Regions from separate parts of the Homo sapiens genome. Here region 1 is linked to region 2. Evidence: fine-mapped expression QTL. A gene starts in region 2. The other region holds a variant in brackets. All regions are shown on one strand. Distances are between the middles of the regions. Region 1 holds the start of MIR3085 (microRNA 3085). Region 2 holds the start of CRTAC1 (cartilage acidic protein 1).

The links.
Region 1: its variant is fine-mapped to the expression of CRTAC1 in thyroid (GTEx, PIP above 0.99). The same link has a PIP of 0.9 or more in subcutaneous fat, tibial nerve and visceral fat.

Annotation. Positions count from the first base shown.
Region 1 is chr10:97,869,567-97,881,508 of GRCh38, reverse strand. It overlaps GOLGA7B (golgin A7 family member B), which reads right to left. Exons shown (of 5, transcript NM_001010917.3): 5 at 9,931-11,942. It overlaps CRTAC1 (cartilage acidic protein 1), which reads left to right. Exons shown (of 15, transcript NM_018058.7): 14 at 1,117-1,260. MIR3085 (microRNA 3085) reads left to right here and starts at 5,612; the gene lies at 5,612-5,696. RefSeq lists an enhancer at 5,185-5,685. The variant C/T (reference allele first, on the strand shown) is at 5,942.
Region 2 is chr10:98,023,704-98,035,645 of GRCh38, reverse strand. CRTAC1 (cartilage acidic protein 1) reads left to right here and starts at 5,025. Exons shown (of 15, transcript NM_018058.7): 1 at 5,025-5,197. The coding sequence starts at 5,174.

The DNA of each region.
Region 1 (11,942 bases), 150 kb after region 2:
TCCATTCTAGTGGAGGGAGACAGACCCTGAACGCATGACCACACACCTGGACAAGATGATTTCAGAACCCTCTGAGCAAGGTGCTCCCTGGAGACTGTTCCAGAGAGAGTGGTCAGGGAGGGCCTCGGGGGGAAGACTCTGAGCTGAGACCTGAAGGATGAGAAGGATCTAGGCCCAGAAAGAGTTGAGGGAAGGGCAGGAGTGAAAAGCGGGAGACAGGACAAAGGCTTTGTGTGTTGAAGGAGCAGGAGGGATGCCAGTATGGCCTGGAGATGATGGAGAGTCCATGAGGCCCCTGTAGGGAGTCTGAATTTTGCTCTTAGGAGCCTTAGAAGCTAAACTGGGGAGTGACATGATGTGATTCACATTTTTAAAGGCTCCCTCCAGCTGCTGAATTGCAGAGTGGATTGGAGGGAAGAGGGGAAGCCAGGTATTCTGTGAGGAGGCAGCTGCAGAAATCCAGGCAAGAGGTCACGATGGCAGGAAATTGGGTGGTGGCAGAGGAATGAGAAAGAGGTGACAGAGAGAGGTGGACTGGTGGACTGCGGGGCAGAGTGGACAGGCTCTGCTGTGAAATTGCACAGGGGGCAAGAAAGACGGAGAAATCAGGGGTCGCTCTGATTTCCCCTTGAGCAGCTGATTGATGATGGGGGTGTTGATTGAGCTAGAGAAGACAGAACAGAGGGCCAGAATATGGGCAGGGCAGGGCAGAATCTGGAGTTCTATTTTGGACATATTAAGCATGAGGTGCATCTTAGACATCCAAGTGGAGCTGTCAAGTAGGTCATGGGTTATTGTATTCGTGAGTCTGGAGCCACGGGGAGAGGTTGTGACTGGAGATAGAACTTTCGGAATCATCCATGCATGAAGAGATCACCTAGAACGATTGTAGTAGACAGAAGAGAGGACCCAGGACCAAGCCTGAGTGCCCACCCCCTGCCCCCAGCATGTAGAGACCAAGTACAGGAGGAGCCAGCCAAGGGAACTGAAGCAGGGAAACTGAGGCTCTGCGAGGAAGGCACATTCCCAAAGCCAGACAGTGTATAGGCAGGCAGAGCCTGGGCTGGTACTTGCTGCCCCACACCTTCATGGTGAGTGGTTCCCCTCGCCTTGCAGACACCAATGAATGCATCCAGTTCCCATTCGTGTGCCCTCGAGACAAGCCCGTATGTGTCAACACCTATGGAAGCTACAGGTGCCGGACCAACAAGAAGTGCAGTCGGGGCTACGAGCCCAACGAGGATGGCACAGCCTGCGTGGGTGAGTGGGGCCCCAGCCATAGGCCAGTAGCAAAAGGATGTTGCTTTCCACTGGGGAGCTCTGGGTAGGCCCCAGATCAAGGTCCCCAGCCCCTTCCTTCTCCTGGCTGGATAGAGTCTCCTTTGACCCATATTGGGTCTCCAGGGAAGACCATGACAGAGGCTTGGAGAAGCCCCATCACTTCTACCATCACCTGAAGGGCCAGGGGATGCTGTGTCCTGGCCTGAGGCTATCATTCTTCTTACTTTTCCTAAAACAACTGTTCCTACCTTGAGGTCAGCCCGTATTTTCATAGCTGGGATATAAACTAACTCCTACTACTCATCTTTGGCTGAATTTCTAAACTGGTAATTTCTTCTTCCCAAACTCCTTCCTCCACCCCCACCCCGTCCCCACCCCCTTTCTCTTTTTCCCATTTTCTGTCTCCCCGCCGCATCGTTTTTGCAGCTCAAGTGGCCTTTTTAGGTGGGTATTCTTCAGCCGCCTCTAGAATCTCTGAGCCTCTCTCTCGGGCCTCATATCTTTCTCTAGGCCTTGGACTTTGCCTTCAGTTATATGCACTTTAAATCCCATCAATAAAGGAAAAAACAAAACAAAACTAACAGCCTTTGTGGAAAACTAAATCTCTCTCCTGCTGCTTGTCTCTCTCTCCACGCCCAGTAGGTTCTGCTGTGTGCTCCCTCTGAATGGACAACAGGGGTGGCCATCTTTGAAAAGGGAAGGTTGGGCGATACTGACACAACCTTAGTTGTTTGTGAAGACTTTCTTTGCATGTTTTCTGAGAAAACAGAAAGGAAAGTCTCCAATACCCCATCCAGTCTCCCTCACTCCTTCAGAAGAATCAAGATAGTCTTGTATCCTCCAGTGTCTCGTGAGCTCATTATTTTGCCCTTAACAAAGATGGCTCCCAGGTGGTTGCTTGCCGGTTGATCCGATAATGTACCATGTGCCTGCTGGTTTGGCCTGTGCTGTTTCTGCTTTTTGCCCCTGACTTCCTGTGCTAGAGAAAGCCTTATTGGTGTTGGTGGTGGTGATGGGAGGGAAAAGGGTGGTCCTTTGGGACTCTTGATAAAAATGTTATCATTTGAACTTGCTAAGCCTTCCAGCCTCTTTTCTGAAGAAATTATGCCAATAAACTCTCTACTAGATATTAGTGCCAAACTGATGATAAAAAGGGTCTGGGGCAAGTAGAACTGATTGGAATGCTGAATTAGGAGCAGCCCTTCCACCATGAGATGCTTTGAAAGCAGATCATAACACAAAGCAGGTGTCACCCTCAGGCACCAGCAGTGGTTTGGTTGCGTACAACAATGTTCACATTTGGGGGACCAGGGTTTGGGCCAAGTGAAGGATGTGTGATGAGTGAGGGGCAGAAATGGAGTGTGTACTCTAGGCCTTTTACCTGCAGGAAGTCACTTCTCCATGCTGTGCCTCAGTTTCCCTAATGTAGATGACAAGAGAGTTGGGCTGGTATATCCCTAAGGGCCTTTCCTTTCTAAGACTCCTCAATGTCTGGCTGGACATAGGCCTGGCTCATCTCAGGTTACTCTGATTTCTAGAAAGAACCTTGCTACTTGGTCTCTGCAATCTCCTTGGAAAATAGAATGCTCCTGTAGCCAGAACACTCTTTGGAAATGATGTAACGCCACAGAATATGCTCACGACCAGCCTCAGTAGTGAAGGCTTGTTATAAAACATAGATCTATTCTTCATGGGGAAAAAAAGTCATCCCAGGATATAATAAAATTACACTTAAGAATGCAGCAACCCTTTTAAAAACATATTCAACAAAAAAAAAGCCCCTGCCATTTTCTGATATCATGGTAATACTCCTAATAAATCACAAAATATGAATTCCTTGTAGCTAGTGCTGTTTTTACACTTAGAACAGAAGCATAAATGAAAAGTTTTTAAATTAAAACAGCTACAATTTCCCTGAAAAGCAGACACCAACTTAAAAATCATTCCACTTCTAGAAAGCCCATTCCTGTGTATTGACATAGAACTAAAGATCTGAAAGGGCTCCAGAGATGAGGCTCAGAGAGCTGAAGTGTTCAAGGTCACTGTGCCCAAGGTCATGGAGCCCACTGCTCCCCAGGCCAGGGCTGGAGCCCTTTCCCACCACACCATCTTGTCAGAGGGTAACAGGCAGCTCTGTCACTGTTCAGACTATTCCCTAGTCCTTCTGGAAGCTGCTGCCTTTTAAAAAATGAACAAAGTGGATCTAAGATAGTGAGATAAGTAAAACCCAAAACCCATGGAGGAATGGTTCCAAATGCAGTGGTAAATGACAAGATAACAGAGCCCATTGACTGTCCATACACAACAGCACAAGAAATAAGGGACAAGACAACTACAGAGATGGCCTGCCAAGGACATCAGGGGGTTCAGGGTGACAGCAGACTTCAGATGATGCCTTATAAGTGACAACCATGAATGCCTTCACAATGAGTTTTATATAACAGGGTATATCTGTGTCATGTGATCCTGTTGGGTGAGTGGGGTCCAGTGAGTTGCAAAGAGGAGTTCTAAGTTCCCACAGCTGATAAGAGCACCACTGCAGCACTCAGACTCCAGGATAAGGCTTCCATTTGATTCATTCATGAGTTCAACAGATACTGATTGAGCACCTACAATGTGCCAAATATTTGGTTAGGCTCTAGGCGTACAATGGTAAATGAAGGTAACAATGGTAAGTAAAAGTAATATGTGTTGATCCCCTACTACTATGTGCAGGTACTGAGCTAGGCTCTAGGCATACAATGGTAAGTGAAAGCAATATTTGTTGAGCCCCTACTGTGTGCCCAGTACTGAGCTAGGCTCTAGGCATACAATGGTAAGTGAAAGTAATATTTGTTGAGCACCTATTATGTGCCAGGTACTGAGCTACGCTCTAGGTATGTAATGGTAAGTGAAGGTAACATTGTTGCCACCCCTACGCTGCCTTCCCTCCAGCCAGATAGAGGAGCCAAGTGCATGGGATGGGAGTGGGACACCAAGGGGCTTTCTAAAAAGTTGAGCTGAATTCTCAGGTTGCTATACCAGAAAGCAAGCTCTCTGCATTCATTCATTTACATATTCATTCAGCAAGCATTTATTGAGAATATCCTGTATGACAAGCACTAGGTTCCTCCCATGAGGAATGTGATAGAGACCCTCTAATGAGGTGGACAAGTCCCCTGCCCCCAAGATGCTTGTGTTGCAAGAGATACAAGGCTGAAAGATACAGAGGACAGGTGGATAGTGAACCCACTCAACATTACCTACCCCCTTACCAAAAAAAAAAAAAAAAAAAAAAAAAAACAGAGCCTCCTCATTGAGCTAGCAGTACAGGCTTTTTGAACAGGTGCCTCAAATTCAATGCATCTACTGGTCTGTGCTATACCAGCCACAGATTTGCGGGTGCAAAGCCACCCCCAAGCTACCCAGGCTCAGCATTCCCATTCCCCTCTTTCTTCTAATCCCTTTCTCTGAGACCCGTGGGAGCCCAAACCGTTCCGTCCCCTCCTGCACACAGATAAGTCTGTCTTTTCCCTGTCCCTTAGCCCCACCTAGGCTCCTGACATCTTTGTTGCCTTATGCTACACTTTAATTTGTAACAAAAATAACAAATGCCTTTAGGGGCAGTCAAGTAATGAAATGGACCCGGAAGGGATTATGCAAATGGAGGAGCTGGTGCCCCACCTGCCTGCACCAGGCAGCCACAACTCACTCCAGTGGGAAGGTGGGCCAGTGCTGCCACAAAAATGCTCCCCATTTTTCAACAAAAAAGAAATAATAAGAATAATACCATTTTTATTCTGCTCAAGAATACTCCCTCTTCACAGGCACATACCCCTTAAAATGACAATAATAGCTTACATTTAGTGGGCTTGGCGTGTCTGGGTTGAATCTAAACTCTTTACAATAATCAACTCGTTTAATCCTCATAATAATCTCAAGAGGAAGGTATTGTAATTATCCCACGTTTACAGATAAGCTAAATGGTTTGTGCAGGGTCATACAGCCCAGACAGACGAAGGCAGGACTGGATCCCAGGAGTCTGGCTGTCAGCTGGCACTCTCAACTACCACTCCCTTCTTCATTTGGGATGGTGAATTGGTTTAAGCAAAAGCCACAGTCACTCATGCTGCCCAGGATCAAGAGCAGGATTGGGAGGGGAAAAATGGAGCCCCTGGAGGCCTAGTGATCTGAAATAGTCCTCCCCACGGTCACGTTCAAGTCTGCAAGAAGAGGTGGCAGTGCTTGCTAATGTCGAGAGTCCCCTCGCCAGGCGGGCTCAGCCAACCTTCACTGAGGCAGAATGGTAAACCATCCACTAGGCCTCTTCAAGCATCTACACGGTTGCCAACCCTACTCTGGGAAGGTGCCATTCTGAGGGCCAGGAGTTTGATTATGTGTCACTCTGGCTGCTATGGCCCCCTCCCAGGGTCTGGGTATCACACCCAGGCCAGTGCCACTGGACCTCGGCCGAAGCAGGAACTCCGCTCCAGACTCCAAGAGCCCCGTGTAGACAGGAAGATGAGCACTTCATTTTTGCAGGGAGCCAGCCAAGTTCTTCCAACAGATTCCAGGCTGAACCTCCACCCAGACTTCCAGCCCAGAAGGCAAACCGAGCCCCTCCCTGCCTCCCTGTGCCCAGGGCCAGTCTTCTCTGAGGCCAGAACCCCAGCCACAGGGG[C/T]CAGGAACATGCCAGAAGTTGCTGTTGTGTCTGTAGCAACAGGCATATCCTGGAAGGAAGGCAAGAGAACATGGGCTGGTTAACACCACAGATGACGCCAGCCTCTCCCACGGTGGCTTGTCCTCTAAGGAACTACTGTTGACAGTGAAGTGGTCAAAAAATAGGCCACCAGAGGGAAAATGAGACGCAAGAGAGAAGAAAAACATCCTCCAGGAAAGCAGCTAACATTTATGCAATGCCTGCCATATGCCAAGAACTTTACATCCATGTCTCCATGAATACTCACACCCATCCCAGAATATAAATGTTATGAGTCTATTTTATTACCAGAGAAACTGAGACTCAGAAACAGTAAATTACACAAAGTCACATAGCTAGCTAAAGTGGCAAGAGCTGTAATTCAACCTCATGACTAGCTCCAAAGCCTGGGTTCTTAAGCCTTATGCTGTGCGATCTCTAGGTAACTGACACTGGGGAAGTTATTTAACCAGTTGTTCATGTGATGTACAGTGACTGAACGCCTACTGTGTGCTGGATGTTGTTCTAGTGGCTTGGGATATACATCTGTGAACAACACTGGCAAAGGTCCCTGCCCTAGCAAGACGTGGCAGGCACTAAACAATACCCAGAATAAGGAAAGTCTGTAGCATGTTGGAGCATGATACGTGCTATGGAGGGCTGGAGAAGAGTAACATCAAGGCCATCCGGGAAGGCCCGGATGGAGGTGGAATGCCATTTTAAATAGCGGCGGGGGCAGGGGGGCTCCCTGAGAAAGAGGCATTGAGCAAAGACTTAAAGTAGGTAAGGTGTCTTTGAACCTCAGTTTTCCCATCTGCAAGATGGGGATAATACCTCACAGAGTTATTATATTAGACTTGACATGGTGCCTGGCACATAGAAAGCCCCCAACAAATTAGAGATACTATTATTAAGTAGCCACGTTCAGGATGGAGCCCCGGGCCCGTTCAGTGCCAAAGCTCCTGTGCTTCCCGGTACACCCTGCTGCCACCCAGGACACCTGTGGTGGGAGAGATGGGCAGGACGGGGCCACCTCTGGAGAACTGACAGATTCACCAGAAAAAGATGGCAAATGGCCATAAGGTGCAGAGCCAACCTTCCTGGGGCCTGGGCTGTGCTATGTTCTGCTGAATTCTCATGCAGTGCCATTCCCAGAAAGAATAGTCATAAAACAAAGTGAACTGAGCTAGGCGGGCATGGCATGGACTGGGCCATACAGAGCAGAGGTCACCAGGAGCTAGTGAACTGGCCTGGGAATTTGGCCCTCAACAATCACAGAATCCTAGAGCTTTAAATCCAGGAACACCTGAGAAGTCATCTAGTCCTCTTCCCTCCTTTTCAGACGTGGAAACCAAGGCCCAAAAAGGAGCTGCAACTTTCCCAAGGCATCTGCACCCCCGTCTGGTCCTTTTTCCTGCCGGGTTGCCGGCTGCTCCTCAAAAGAGCTCAGCTCCAGGCTGCTCCCAGCACCCTTCTCCAGAAAGCTCCAGGTATTCCAGAAGCCCAAGTGTATGAACAAGATCAGGAATAAGAGAGGCAGGGCTTATCCTTCCCACTTTGCTGACATGGAAACTGAGTCAGGATACGTGCCCATCAAGTAACAGAAGAACCATACTTGGTCCTTAGAACTCAGCTGGGATTAAATACAGATCTGAATGGGGGTCCCGAGTGCAGAGAGGAGCCTGTTCAGCTGTGAGGAGGGAGGCAGGGTCAGGAGAAGGGTGCGGCAGATGGAGAATCTGTATCACCCGTTCCCAGAACGTCCCGCCCAGAACCTCATGCCCTCAGCCTGCCTGCCAGCAGGAAAGCAGTCTGGGGCCAGAATAATTCCCCTAAAGCTAGCTGGTTCTCCTTCTTCATGGCCAGCCCCAGAGCAGCCAGGAAGGATCTCATCCCCTAGAGTCATTTAATGCACCCTCCCCACAAATCTAAGGGCTAACTTCCCTCCCTCCACCCCAGACCTGGCTGTAGAGCTCCTGGAACAGGAAAAAAGCACATCCTCTTTCCCCAACTGCTTATGGAGACCATGGCAGAAGGACAAGTTTAGGCCAAAGGAAGGAAAGTGAGCCAAACATACACCCTCTCTGCAGTTCAGATCCCCAGACTCAAGGTTTAGAGCCCTCGAAGGCTGACACAGAAGAAAGAGGGAGAAGGAAGCCTGGGGCTGCCCTCGTGTCACCCAGTCATTGGAAAGTCTCAGTGCCTCCTCCCACTGCAGAAGGTGTCTCACATGTGCCAAAATGCCATGTTCGTTCTTAGAGCTGTGCACAAATCCTATGGCCCTCCCCTCTCCCTTCCTTTCAACTGTCCTTAAAATTTTCCCTTCACACTGAAACTCTGGGATCAAATGGACTTGAAATCCAGACCCTCCACCCAGGCATTTGGAAGTGGCCTTAAGAAGTTGTTTCATCTCTGAGCCTCAGTTTCTTCATCCACAAAATAGAGGCAGTGATAAAATCCTCATAGAGTTGTTGTGAGGCTTCCTCGAGCCTATAAGGTACTTGCTGCAGTGCCTGACTGATGAAATGCAGATATTGTCATAAAATCTGTGCCAGGACGTTTAACCTCCTGGTTTCACTTCCAGCAATGCCTGACTTTAAAACAATCCATAAGCCATTAGCTGGGGCAATATTAGACCTATAAGGATTCTTCCCAACAAGACACATCCATCACTCAGAGTTACAAATGCGGAGTTCATCTGGGGACTGGGATAGCACGGCATCTTCCCTTTGAAGAGCTCCAGCCCTATATTTAGATCTGCACTGGGGAGCCCAGGGGCGATCGGTACCCATCCATTCACCTGCCTCTCCAGGGTCTGCGAGCATCCATCTCAAGCCAGGCAGGCCTCTCGCTCATCTCTGATCTATCAGTCATCTCTCTATACCCATCTTCTCTGTATCCATCCACTTATCCAGCCAGCCAGCCATCCAGCCAGTGATTCACTCACAGTAATTCACTCTCTAGGGCCTGAGGTCCAGATCTCTCAGGTAAAGAATTCAGCACCAGAAGGATTTTCCCCACCTCAAAATGGTGTTTGGGGAGTGTCAGGCAGGGCCGACTGGGGTGGGACACACGCTTCCTCCCCTCCTCTCCCAGGATAGGTAGAGGTCATGAGCAGAGCCACAATGTCACAGCTAGGGCAACATCACTGAGAGCTGCTGCCCAGCTCAGGGGGTAGCCTGGGGTCACTGCATCCATCCTTTAATTGAGTTATAAGGTGACCACTTGCAGGTGAATTGTATCCTTCAGTGACCACTGCCTATCTGCATGGTACTGAGCTGCTTCTCAGTGGCACCTTGCCCTAGGGGTCTGCAGATGACACATCTGTATAGGCCTGCCTCTTCCTGCCAACCTGAGATGGGCAGCATCTTCCATTCACCTGGCCAGGGCCAGGCCCTGAAACAAGCACTCAGGATAGGGGGAGGTGGGGGTGGGGGTGGGGAGTGAGTAAGACAGGCTCCCTGCCCTTGAGAAGTGTACTGATTAATTGTGGGCAGCAGGGAAAAGGACCCTCGCAATCTCTGAGGTCTTGTAAGCTGTGTGTAAGCTTGTGTGTAACATTGCCCCCTTCTTGGGGCCTCACTCAGCACTGTTCTCAGGTGATAGCTGGTTCCCAATCACTTTTCCATTACAGAAATCGATAACTTGAATTACTCCAAAATAACTAGTACCTTCATGCCCCTGCAAAGCTAATTTTTCTGGGGATGCATTTGCCCACGAGTTTCTCTCTGGTCTGGAATCTGTCTTCTATCTTTATGAGTCAATCCAGGTAGAACACTCTCTCTTCTCCCACGTCTCACTCTTGTGGCAGAGTGAGAGTGGGATCTGGAGTCAGAGACTTAGGTTCAAGTCTTTGCTCTGACACTTACTAGCCCTTGTCAAGCTACCTAACCACCTAGAACGTCAGTTTCCTCATCTGTAAAATAAGATTTCAACACCCCAGTGTTCGAGAATTAAATGGAATAATAATGTACATGAATGTTCCTGGCATTTATTCGGGAATCAGTGAACCCTTGGATAAATATCTGTTTATTCTATGCCAGAATCTGAAGCCTGCTATAAATCTACATCATGAGGCCATCGTATAACGAGGTCCTAGTATCACTTCTGCAATAACAATATCTTACATTGGAGAAACAGATGATTATTTATAAATATACACATTCTCATAATGACAAAGGTGAGACTCAGGAAAGTTAAGTGAATTGCTGGGGGTGGGAAAGGGGGCAGCTGGCACAGCCCTCTGACTCTCTTCACAGTTTCCCACTTCCTCCATTGTCCCTGATTCAAAACCCGACGCAGCTCCAGGATCCTGCATGCGAAGTTCTGCTGTCCAGCAGATGCTGAAATGACAGGCCCTTTGAACATCCTCTTGGAGGAAGAGTTGTGAGCTTGGTGCAGGCTGCCCTTGGCACTGCCAGGGGAATAAATCCTCCTAGAAGTCGCCCGAGAAGGCTCATGCGGAAACCTCCGAAGGCTGGGCTCTGAAAGGAAGGAAAGAAACCGACATTACCAAGCATCTCTTTCATGCCAAGCACATTCATGGCCAGTTTCTTACTGACTCCTCAAAACCAATTGTTCTTAACCTTTTTAGGGGGTTGCATACCCCTTTGAGAATCTGCTGAAAGCTGTAGATGCTCTCCTCAGATAACGGCACATAATATGCACCTGAATGCAGTCGGGTCGAGGTTAAGAACTCCTGGTGTGAACCTGGGCTGTTTTCAGATTTTCTTAGGCATCAGGGACCTTCCCTTTTAGAGGGCCCACCCACAGCAGAGCAGACATTACATTTTCACACACACACACACACACACACGTAACATAGAGTTGCAGTTGTCTGTTTGGCATATGTGTTACATTTCCAGATATTTAACAAAACGTTAATTTCAAGTGTGTCCTTTCTTTTCCTATTTTGTAGCCAACAGGCTTTTCTGGTGAATTTTATTGAAATATATCACCAGTACAGACAAATACACAGCTCTTAAGTATACAGCTCAGTGAATTCTCATGAAGTGAGCACCCCGTGTAACTGGCACTCTGATCAAGAAACAGAACATCCTGAGCTCCCAGAAGCCCCCCAGGTCCCCATCCATTCGCTACCCCCGACCCAGGGTAATCTTGATCCTGACTCCCAATCAAAGGCGAGTTTGGCCTGTCTTTCAGTTTCATATAAGGGGAATCACATGGTGCATATGCATTTTTGTGTCTGGCTGCTTCTGTGGAACCATAAACTTCTTATTCAGGTCTCAGGCATTTTCAGAGGTGTATTAAAGGCTTATAGGCTATAGGTACTGTCAAAACCAGGGATTCTCAGCCTTACCTTCACATTAAAATCACCAGGGAAACTCTTTAAAATCCTGATGCCCAAGCTGTCCCCCAAAACAATTAAATCAGAATCTCTGAGGATAGGATCAGGCATTGGTGATTTTTCATGCTTCCAGTTGACATCCATTGCCACCAAGGTTGAACGCCTCGGGTCTAAACAACTCTGTGAGATATTAGTCTCCCTATTTAACAACTGGGGAATCTGAGGCTCCAAGAGTCTTCATGTGTCAGTGTCATGAAGCCAGAGCTCAAATTCAGATCTGATGTGGAGTGGTGTTTGCCTTGCCTTATCCCTGGGTGAATGGTAAAGCCCAAACCAGGTGGTGATGCCTCCTGTCTGGGCCCCCCTCATTGTGAGTCCTTCTAGAGGTGTGGAGAGGGATGTGGAGTTTCCCAGGCTCGACAGCCCAGGGGCTGGCCCTAGGGAGAAAGTCACCAGACTCCACCTTTGCCCCACACCTCTGGAAGCCACAGAAAAGTCCCTGCGGGTGGCAGTGGCTGCCAACCGGGGAGCCGTGGGGGACGTGTCACAACAGCCATAGTTCTTTCTGTCTCCACCTTTGATTCCCCGAGTGCAGTGCATAATCCTGCCACTCAGTGGCACCTCGAGCTTCTGTAAACCCTGTGGTTTCACACACACCCGCCCTGTGGCCAAAGG
Region 2 (11,942 bases):
GAGCTGTGTGGTCAGCGGCCCACCATGGCTTTCCTTTTCCCATCTCCCTCCCTGCATCACATTCTTAACCAGCCCCTCAGATTGCAGAGCCACCCCCACGACAGTGTGGGAAAACCCCGTAGCTCACTGGACACATAGGCAGGTAAGTTCCTGGAACCCAAGCCATTTTGGCACAGGTTAACATGATAAGCAGACACCTGCTTGCATCGTTACCTCCAGGCTTCCCCCTGCCCCACAGCCTCGAAAGTTTCTAACCAGACTTCCCCAGGATTCCATCATGTCCTCCTTCTTCCAGCATCCCTTTCCTGGGGCTGCTCTGCCTGCAGAGTTTCCCTGCAGCATGCGCTCACAGCTCAAGGTCTTCTGAACAAACTCTCTGGCCATCTGGAAGACTCCTTTCTGCATCTGTGATGGCTCTGGCTCTGGCCCTGACTGAACCATCCCCCAGGGTTTGTGGCTTCTCTAAAAGAGTTCCTGTCCAACTTTACCCCTAACCTACCTCCCCTTGAAAGTCCATCCTATGCATCTGCCTCTTACAAGCCACAAGTGCATCTGAAACCCAACGGCCATGTGATAAATGTGTACTCCTTGGGAAAAAGGGACGACCCCTCCATACGACTTGGTTTGAGAAGGGGTTATTTCCTCATACCCCCTTTAGCTCCTCATTTCTTTCACAGTTTGTGGTTTCCCATTTTCAACTATTGCTGTTTTTCCACCCCCTTACAAAAAGATTCATTTCTTTTGAGACAACCAAGCCTAAAATACACAATCCCTTATCTACAATTCCAAATCCCCAAATCTCTGAAAGTCAAAAGGATTTTTGTTTTGCAAGTTTGATGCCAAGACTCATCTGGTAGCAAAATCTGACCTAAACTGATGTGAAGTTACTTTATCCTCACACCTGCTTAGTGTAAACTTCATATATTTCATTGCAGAAATATTAATGTGTCTGATTTCAATATGCTGCTCAAAGCTTCACTGAGAATGTTTATGTATGGTGCCTTTCTGAATTCTAAAATGCCTCTGGCCTCAAGGGCTTCAGATAAGGGTGTGAGGAACTGTACCAGCCTCTCTGTTCTCCTGTGACAGAACTCTTGGGACAGAAGCATCTCTAAGATCTGGTGTCTTGACTTCTCACCCGGAGAGAGAGAAGATAGCCAAGTAATCTTCTAATGTAGAGAGAGAATTAACAAAGTCATTTGTCAATGAAAGGACATGGGGTCTGGAGGTTGTCTTCAGTGTTTCCTACAGTTTTTGTCCTGTCCTTAACTTGTTGCATGACTGTTAGCAACTTGCGTAAAGTCCAACCTCTCTGATCCTGGACTTTAGAAGAAAACTAGCTCCTGAGAACTCCTGCTCCAGTGATGTTGATGATGACTAACACACACAATACATCTTGAGTTTTTAGAAAATGAAGTACTGTACAGCTTTAATAGTATTTTTAAGTAAATAGGTTTAATTGGAATAACTCAGCAAATATCTAATGTGTGTTCACTCTGTGCCCAGTTTCATGCTGGGTTCTGTGAGGTAGTCAACTGCAAGGTACAAACTCTGGACTTCAAGGGGCTCATATTCTGATAGGGAGGCCAAGTATCACTGAGTGAAAAAAAGCTAATGTGCATCACAGGTGATAAGATGGTGTAGACCTGCAGGAGAGCTGAAAACTGCTGGCCAGGGCAGTTTTGGAAGGTGGCGCAGGAAGGAAGACTTGGTTTGGGTATGAACAGATGAGAAAACAATTTAAGCACGTTCCCCAGGTAAGAATGAAGAAGTCTGTGGGGGAACACTCTGAAGAAAAAACAACTTCACTGGGGTCAAAGGACTGGAGCCTGAACAAGATGCATGGGGTAAGGGTGTGCTGAAAATGTGTGTATTAGTCAGCTCAGACTGCCATAGCCAATACCACAGACGTGGAGCTTAACCACAGAAGTTAATGTTCTCACAGTTCTGGAGCCTGGAAGTCCCAGATCAAGGTGCTGGCAGGTCTGGTTTCTGCAGAGGCCCTGCTCCTGGCTTGCAGATGGCCTCCTCCTGTTACTCAGGCAGGCTTTCTCCTGAGGATGCACAGAGAGAAATGGGAGATCTCTGGTATCTCTCTCTCTTCTTACGAGGACACTAGTCCTATTGAATTAGGGTCCACCCTTATGATCTCATTTTGCCTTAATTGCCCCTTTAAAGGCCTTATCTCCAAATGCAGTCACACTAAGGGTTAGGGCTTCACTATGTGAATTTGGTCCGGAGAGGCACAATTCAGTCTATAACCGTGTGCATGTGCCTCAAGAAAGCTGTGTTTGGGCAATGTGGGAGGACAAGAGGTCTCTCACGGGATTGGGGGTGGGGAAGGGCTGGAGCTCTGAGCAGACACTGACATGAACTGAGCAAATGGACATCGAGGACATCAGAGAAATGAGAAATTTTCCAACCAGGACTGCCTGGCCCACTGGGCTAAACCCTCACAAGTTCAAGTGCTGAAGCCAGATTGTATTCCCTGGAGCACTTCCTGGCTGGAACATCTCCATCATTTCCTGCATTTTTCTGTCCTTCCCTAGCACCTTTGGTCTGTTGTAACCTTACCTGGCTAGCTGCAGGAAAGTGTGAGATTATTACAGAGTTATTTTGCACAGAGCACCTATTCACATCTGGTTGGCTAATGCTGATAATTACCGTGCTGGTTACTAAATCTGTCGGGTCTGGGTGAGGTGAGGCGCTACAGCTGGGGCTGCTGTGCACAGCTTCACCGGAGAAGAGAGAGGTGAGAACAAAAACCAAGAAAGGTGTGCTCAGATGTTTGGGATTGAGTGAAACTGGTTAATTACCAGTCACTTGCTGTCTCCCTGAGTTGGAGTTTCTGGCTAAGGAATGCTCATAGATCAGACATAATATGACAACCTGCAACTTATTTCCACATTAAGAGGGTGGCGGGGACCAAGATGCAGAGAAAGTGTGGAGACAGTCTCTCAGGTGCCAGAGCCTTGGCCAGATGACTCAGATGCCCTCAGAACAAGGTGGTGGCATGTTCCAGCAGGGTGCAGAGCCAACTGGACTCCTTATGCAGAGAGCTGGGGATCAGATATGGCCTTGGGGGCAGAGTCTATTTGCCGATAGATGAAGGTTCTTAATCAGGGCCCTAGATTAAGTTTTAATGATCCACGAACCCTCCTAAAGTTGCATGTCAACATGTGTGTATGTGAGTGAGCATTTTTATAAGCAACAGATCCATAACATTTATGAGATTCTTGAAAGGTTCTAAAGGGTCTGTGATCCCCAAAAGGAGGGTGATTATAAACTACTGTCCTAGACCCCTGAAGAAACAGGTTGACATTGGACCGAGCCCCAAGAGACTCAGGGTTCCTAATGATCCTGAAAGTATACTCAAGGTGTGTGTGTGTGTGTGTGTGTGTGTGTGTGTGTGTGTGTGTGTAAATGTGTGTGTTTGTATATTTTTCTAGAAAAATGATTCAGTAATTTTTGCCAGATTTTCAAAGGGGCCCACAACCTTACAGGCTTGATGGGGGCTCAAAAAGCCAGAAAGTTTGTCTGTGCCTAGCTATTTCTTTTCAGAGGAAGATCACAGAGACCTGAAAACAGAGCCCAGACTAGGTCCTGGTAGTTCTGCTCAAAATCTGTGGATAACAGGGGCCAGAGGCTGGATGTGTGGCCCTCTATAAAAGAACACATTCAAATCATTCTAAGAGTCAAGGGCCCAGAAGCCAGACTAGTGGGTGATGGTCACAAAAGCGTCAACGGATGGGAAAACAGTCCTAGCTCCTTCCCTCTCCGATGGTGGATTCCCAAGTCTTTCTCTTCTGTGGCCCCTTTACCTGGCTTTCAGAAACCCAAAGACCTCACTCATGGAAGCTCAGAATTCATTCAATAAACACTGAGCGCCTACTATGTGCCAGGCTCTATTCTAGGCGTAAAATAAAGGATTTGCCTTCAGAGTGTGACCCACCAAGGCCAGTTTCCTGCCTGAACAGGGGTATTTTGAGCATTGCTGATCAAGTGTGTTTTTCTGGCGCTTAGCACCCCCATTCCCCTGGTCCAGAGAGGCAGAAACCATCCCCCCACCACCACCAAGGCAGCGGGTTGGGGGCGAGGAGAGGCGGGCAGTACCTGTGATCAAAGCGGTGAGGGAGGCTAGTAGGACGCAGGCGGCAGGAGCGGGTGGGCCAGGCCCGACTCGGCCACTGCTGGGGTAGGGACTAGGTGGGATGGGGTGGGGGCACTGCTGGTGGGGACGGGGTGGGGTAGAAGCGGCGCTGCCCGCAGCCGCCTGGGCCTCTGCGCGCCTGATCTCCGAGCTGCGCTCGCCCGCTCCCCGCCTGCGGGGGCCGTCGCGGAGCCCTGCTCTCCATACTGAGCAGTCCCCGGGAGGTGCTCGGACACGTCCCCAGGCTGGATAAAGATCGGCTCGGCTCTAGCTCCGTAGTCGAAATCTCGCCATCAGCGCGGCTCGCTCGGCCGCTTTGGCCCGGCCCGGCGACGCCAGATCGCTATCCTGGGGGGAAATGGGAAGGCAGTGCAGCCGCTCCCGCCTCCACCCTCGGTCCTGCGCGCAGGGGTGGCCGCGGGGTCCTGGGGCTCGCCGCCCTCCCCTCCCCCTTCGCGTTCCTTCCCTGCGCTGCCTCCCGAGGGACCCTCGCTTCCCTCCGGCCTGGGGCCCCCAGCGCCCAGCCAGGCGCCCTCTCCCCTCCTCGCCAGGCCTCGCTGCCGCCTGAAGGTTACGCGACGCAGTGGCGGGGCGCGGGGGGCGCCCGCCCTCGCCGCCGCCTTCGCCGCCGCCCACCCCAGTGGCCGCCGCGCCGCGCCGGGCCAGCCTGGCTGCCGGCTGCTGCCACCGCAATCCCGGCTCCTAAATCAGCGCGGGGAGGCGCTCCCTCCCCACGCCCGGCTCTCCGGGCTCTCGGGGCCGCGATTGGCCGCGCCGGCGCCCCCCACCCCGGGCCCCCGGCTCCAGCTGCCGCGCCATTGGCTGCGGGCCTCCGCCAGCCTTTACATAAGACCGGGCGCGCTCGAGTGGAGTTGTATAAAGCGAGCGCGCGGCGTCGGGGCGGGAGGCTCGAGGCCAGCCCGGGACCGGGGCTGGGAGCAAGCAGGCGGCGGCGCCGGCGGCAGAGGCGGCAGCGAGCGCCCGCTTCCCACGCCCCTAGGCGGCGGGGCCGAGAGCGGGAGGATGGCTCCGAGCGCTGACCCCGGCGTGAGTATCTGCACCGGTGCCCCCCACCCTAAGGCGGAGAAAGTTTCTCCAGCTCTGCGCGCCCCCCCGGATCCGCCCGCAAGGGTGGCGGGGACGCCGCCCGGGAACCCGGGAAGACTGGGATCGCGAAGGCGGCGGCTTCGCTCCTAACTTGCTGGGAGGCGCTGGACTCGATTGGCGCGCGGAGCCTCCCCCGCGGGCTGGGGGTGAGGCGGCGGCCGGGTTGGAGGTGGCGGAGAGGTGGGAGCTGATGTGTGGGGGCGACAGCCAGCAGCTGGCAGAGAAAGTGTTGGGGGCGCACTGGAGGTCAGCTGTCAGGGGAGGGGGCCTCTGGGGCCTGGAGGGGGCGGAGCGGGTGAGGAGGGATGTGCCGGGCTATCGGGAGAGTCTCCCAGTCAGCCAGGCTGAGACCCGGGCCTGGGAAGCCACTGGCCTCGGCCGAGTGCCTACGCTTCCAGGCTGGGGAAGAGCCCCGCGGGCTGGCTCTTCCTCCCCTGGGAAGCCGAGTTCCCGGGCACAGCGCTGGGTGGCAGAGAGCTCCGGGAGCCAGCCCCGCGCGCGGCGTAGCTGCTAGCCGCCTTATGCTGGACGAGGTGTGGTCTTCCCTTCAGGCTGCCTGAGGCAAGCCGGCTTCAGGCATTCCAGGGGAACCCTGAGTCCTCCTCGACCCCGTGGGGGCACTTGGAGGCTTTGATGGGGCAGCCAGGCCGGGCTTGGGGGCATGCCCAGCAATGCAGCGCGCTTCTTTGCAGTACAGTAGTTGGGAGCCCTGGTTAGTCCCGCTTCTGCAGAAAGCAACTCAAGAATCCAAAGTCATCCCAGCCTGGATGGAAGCCTCCCAGAGTGGCGGGGAAATTCTCCTAGGGTTGAGAGCTGGGGGGGCTTCCTCCAGGAATGACTAATGAATATTGCTGCTGCTGCCGCCGCCGCCGCCGCCGCCGCCGCCGCCGCCGCCGCTGCTGCTGCTGGTGGGTGCACCCAGTGTGGCTTCTGCACATCCCAGGAGATGCTTCCGTTCTCCTGACAGGACACATTCTTGAGTTGCACTTGAGGTGTCTTCTGGGATGGGTGCAGGACTTTCCACGTGAAGCCAAGTGGAAAAGAAGGGAAGAGGGTCCCAGGACAGGGGACAGTTCTATAGTGTTTTCTTGAGTCAGGGGAGAACTCATGTGGGAAGAGATAAGCGATTGACGGAGATTTGGAACCCAGACGACTTGGGGCTGGAGATGTCCAAGACTGAATTAGAGCTCATTGAGAGTCACAGAGTACCTCACCCTCAGCCATGGGGGAGAGGTGGAGGCTGGAAAAGTGGGAACATGGTGGCTGTTCCAGCATGGTTCTTGAGAAAATGTTCTCTCTCTCTCTCTGACTTGGTTAAGAACATCCTTCTGGCAGTAGGTCCTAAAGTCAATTTAAGAGGTAATGAAGGGAGTTGAGGGTCTTGATGATGGCACAGAGGACCACAATTAGAACATTTCCATTTCCGGTGGGTACTAATGGACTCTGGAAAAGGTCGAAACGGTGTGTAGGGAGTCTGGGGAACCTGCTCTGTGGCTGCTCATTTGAGCCTGAATCCTCCACCTTATCCCATCCCTGAATGTAGGTGGATGTTCAAACTCCTAGGGTACCTGCTTCAGCCTGGAGATATTTTATGGGTGCTATCAATCTATATCCCAACCCCCAGCTCCATCGTTGTCTGCTGCAGTCAACATTTTTCTGCTGCATTTCCCAAGACCTTCTCTCCACTGGGGATTTGTGCAGCGAAATACCTGCTTGTTGCTCTTTCTTCCCTTCTCCATCTGGGCTGCACCTGGTGTTCTGAACCCTGGTGTTTATTCCTTGGTACCTTGATGTTTGGTTAAGACGTCCTATGGCTGCGCAGGGGTGCCCCTGTAAATCTGTGGACCAATGGCCTGTGTAATTCTAGGGAGTGCAATAGACTTCTATAGAAAGAATACCACCAACCGGGAAGGCAGTCCTACTAAACAGCTTGTGACAGCCTCTCATGCTCAAGCGCTCCCTTGCTTCCGTGCTGAGGCGGTGGAAGCCTAAAGGTGGAGCAGACTCCTTGGTGTCCAGTAGGGGGCGCCAAAGGTACCTGGCTCAGGACCACTGACTTTCTCACTTCTTGCCCTTTACTGGCTGTAGCAACTTAATGCTTTAAGGCAGCTCAGGCTACAGCCTTCAACCACCACCATCGTACTTGGAATCCTTCTACCACATGCTTCCTGGGCTTCAGGTGGTCCTGTGACCTCGGGTGCTATGGGGCAGGTGCAAGCACAACATTCCAAGGAGACAGAGCTGGTACACAGCCCCACCCTCTCTCGGGGATCATTCCTTTGTGCTTGGTGCCGCTGTGTTCTTTGAACTCTTTAAGGGTTCATGGAGTTCCAGAACATTAGAGCCAGAAGCAAGGAGCCTTGGAGAGCATCTCATCCAACCCCATTCCATCCCAACACTCACATGCACATTTAATTTACAGATGAGAAAACTGAAGCTGGATAAAGCCAAGGTCACATGGCTATTTGGTGGAAGACATGGAACTAGGCCCTAGGATTCCCACTGCTCGATTCAGAGCTGTTTCCACTCCAGCGGCCTGCTTCCTCTTCACTATAAAGATGGACATACTTTCTCTATACAGTAGGCACTCATAGTTATTGACTGACCAGGCTTTGGTAAATTAATACATCCCATACAGTTGGGGAGATTCTATTTTGAATCTGTTTTTCAGAGTGAGGAGGTGAGGAGAAAATACAGTTCTTGTCATGGACATACACAGGTCATAGAAATTCCTAATTATTCTTTCCCTGCCTCTACAATCTCGTCTCATTATTCCAAGTGGTGTTTTAAGCAAAAGCCATGCAAGTCCAGGTTTCAGTCTGTGCATTTAGGAGTCAGAAGTGCCGAGTCCCTCACTGTGGTCTTGGAACCCAGGTCTGGAGCGCCAAGGAATGTTGGCGTGGGGTCTCTCTGCTTGCAGTCACACCACTGCTGGTGAGACCTCCCAGATTCAGATTATAGATGGATTGGAGAGTTTCCAAAGAGTATTTGCCTATTTCCCCCACCCTTGCTGCTCCCAGCTCAAGGTCAGAGTGCTAGGACATTCTATTTTTGCCAAATCCTTATGTTTGGACTTCTTCGGTGACCTGCAAGATACTACCATTTCCATTGCCCTTTCTTCTGTTCCGAGAGCCTGGCTGTCGACATCTGAGCTGGGCTCTGGGAAACAGGTTTGCTGAGTGGCCTGTGGGCGGCCCCCTTTGTTCTCTTTTTTTTTTTTTTGAGACGGAGTCTCGCTCTGTCGCCCAGGCTGGAGTGCAGTGGCGCAATCTCGGCTCACTGCAAGCTCCGCCTCCCGGGTTCACGCCATTCTCCTGCCTCAGCCTCCCGAGTAGCTGGGACTACAGGGGCCCGCCACTACGCCCGGCTAACTTTTTGTATTTTTAGTAGAGACGGGGTTTCACTGTGGTCTCAATCTCCTGACCTCGTGATCTGCCCGCCTCGGCCTCCCAAAGTGCTGGGATTACAGGCGTGAGCCACCGCGCCCGGCCCCCTTTTGTTATTATCTCCCCACCTGGCTTCTTTGCACACTGGATGGACTTCCTCCTGGTTCTCCTTGGAGCCTCAGCAGACTCGGAAGCCTACCCTCGTAAGAAACCCACTGCTGCCAAGCCAGAATTCTGAGAGGCGGAATCCTCTTCTCTCCCTAAGACTCACGAAAGGGATGCTTGTTGCCAGGGAAGATGCTTGAGTCCCCTCCTCTCCCTCATGCTCACAGAAGATGAAGTTGGAGCTTCATCTTCAGCGGGAGGAGGGAGGTGCAGGATCACGTGGACCACCGGAGAGGAAAAGCCCCTCTCTTTAAACTGGAGTCTTAAGAGGCTATGCTTGAGATCTCACCAGCTCCTAGCTTTACCTGGTGAAATGAGCCTGCATTCTCAAGACTTGTTCTGGTTCTGGATAAGACCAGAGGAATATACTTACATACATTGTGGTTATAGTACAAGCTCTCTGGACTTTTGTTTGAATGCGGGAGTGGGTAGAGAGCTTGAGAAGTGGCATTAGACTATGAGAAACAGGAAATTGTCCAGTGGGGCTTTTATGAGCCCCACCAGATGGCTGACCCTTCCCCCTCTCATTGTAATGGTAAGGACACAGGCTTAGAATCTGGTCTCCGCTTGCTGGCTTAGAGACCTTAAACAAACCACTTAACCTCTGCAAGCCTCAGTTTCCTTCTCTGCTAAATGATGAGGCTGACAACCATGTGATGAGGGTAGGGGAGCGAAGCTGGAGGGAGACAGTCTTTAGTATTCCTCTGCCCTTGGTTAGAGGTAAAGAGGTATTCAGTTGGAAGGGGATATTATTGCTGAATCACTGGGAACCCCCGAGTCTTCTTTTTCCCAGTGAGTGAGCCTGAGTGCCCAGGTTTGCACATCAGCCTCTGCTCACAGCAATATCTGGGCTGATGGGCAAGGCCTTCTTGGCAGGGCTCCCTCCTTGCCTCTTTCCCTGCCCCACCTCAGGGTTTTCACTTTGGGGTTCTGCCATGCTTGGGGAAAAGAAATTTTATGGGTCCCAGGATAATTCTGAATGTGATGGAGGGCCCTGAGCTATTGATTCCTAAGGAAGGATCTTTCTGCTGGGAGAAGCCTTCCTTGGAGCCTAGTGATTTAAGAGTGCTGACAAATTCGTGCTCACCGAGCCTCCTGCAGGCTGCAGATACAGGCTTCCAGGCCAGCCTGGGCTCTGCTAGGGATTTCTGGAGAGCCTGGCTGGTTGCTTAGGGGACATAAACCTGTGAACTTTCCTTAGGAGAAAGTATGAAATCAATTGGTTCATTATCACACCAAACACACCCCAGACCATTTAGGGCATTTAAGAAATAAGAAGCAGCAAAGGACTGAGAGGTTGTCTTTGAAAAGTGTGCAGAAAGGTGTGAAAGGGTTGGGGGAAAGGAAGGGAGAGGAAGACCGTTTTTCCCCTGAACCACTCATGATTTTTACCTTATCGAAATCCTTGAATGGTGACTAGAGGGGTTATTTTGTTCCCCCTCCCAGATATTTGGCAATGTCTGTAGACACTTTTTCTTGTTACAACTGGGGAATGGGGTGCTACTAGTATCCACTAGGTAGAGGCCAGGGATGCTGCTGAACATCCTACAGTGCACAGAACACGTCTCACAGCAAGGAATTATCTGGCCCAAAATGTCATTAACACCAAGATTGAGAAACCCGGGACTGGAGCATTGCAGCACAGAATCACAGCACATTAGAGGTGGGAGTGATTTTAGAAGTACTCTCATCCAATTCTCCCATTTCACAGCCGAGGGCACTGAGATCCAGAGAGGAGAGGGAAGCAGCCAGGATCACACTGCAAGCAAGTGACAGAGCTGGTCTGCAATTCAGATCTGCTCTCTCCTGAGACCGTTTTACCCAGATTCCCCCAGAGTTGTTGTGAAAATTAAATGTGAGCTGTGAAAACAAAAATAAATAGAAAATTATAGAGACTATATTAATATTTCTATTATTAAGAATTGGGAGTTTGTATAGTTGTATTTCTGGCTATGCCACTGACTCATTGTGCAATATTGGACAAATCATTCTCCCACCCCCATGCCTCTCTATGAGTGTGTGTGTGTGTGTGTGTGTGTGTGGTGGAGAGGTGGTCTTAGAGCAAAAAAAAAAAAAAAAAAAAAAAAAAAAGGATAATATAATCATTCTCTTTAGAGAAAGGTCCAAAGATTTGCCCTTCAAAAACCCTAGACACTAAAAAAATTAAAATTTTCCTTGAAAGAAATCATGTTGACTTTGTAAGAAGCAAAGCGTTTACTTCTTGGAAAAATTCCAGTACCCTGGCCCTGTAAGTTGGTTCCAGCCCAGGAAATCTGATCAGCATCCAGAGGAGAAACTGATAGCTCCACAAATGACAAGAGGCTGGATATGTGCCCCCTCCCTCCAAGAAAGGGTGATGGCGACTTCTCCTCCATCCTTTCCTGCTCAACCCTCCTGGCCCAGAAGTTCCACAAGGAACTTCAACGAGGGATGGGAAGGTGTGTCATTAATCAGTGAAACCTTGTTTATTTAACAGACATATTCTTAAAGAGCTCTTCCAAGGGACATTTTGACGTATTACTTTAATTAGCTATGGAAGAATTGAGAGTGCAGAGAGTATAAAATGACCCTCTCTGTTGTTTCCAGTTACTCTTATCTTTGTTTGCACCGGACAAGTACAGTGACAAGGTCATGGGAATCACTGCTGAGCCCTGGGAGTGTCCCGGTGACCTGAGGAGGGACTGCAGGGACTGCTTTCTTTCCTTACATCAGCCTTCACCTACCTAGAGAGCAGCCACCTCGGTGGAGATTCCTGCTTTGGCATTCCAGCCCTCTATTGATGTAGACCTGTCTTAAAGGAAGCATCATGTTGTGCAAATTTTAACACAGCTCTTAGGAAGGGGAACAGGCCTGGGAGCTGGAAGTTCCCCTCCCAGAAGGGCAGAGGCGCTCTTATAGGATTGGTGGGAACAGCCTTGGTTGGTGTTTTTCACATGAGGTCTGACCCTGGTCTTGTCCTCCTTGTGCTCAGGATGGGAGGTAGGAAGTCACTTGAGGCTCCCCTGAGAGGACTGAGGTGACATCCCTCCCTTCCCACATGGGAGCGTCACTATGTAGATTCCTGCCATGAATCTTCTGTGTGTCCTGAAGCAGGTCCCTTAGCCTCTGGAGGTCAGTCCCTGTAATCAGAGGAG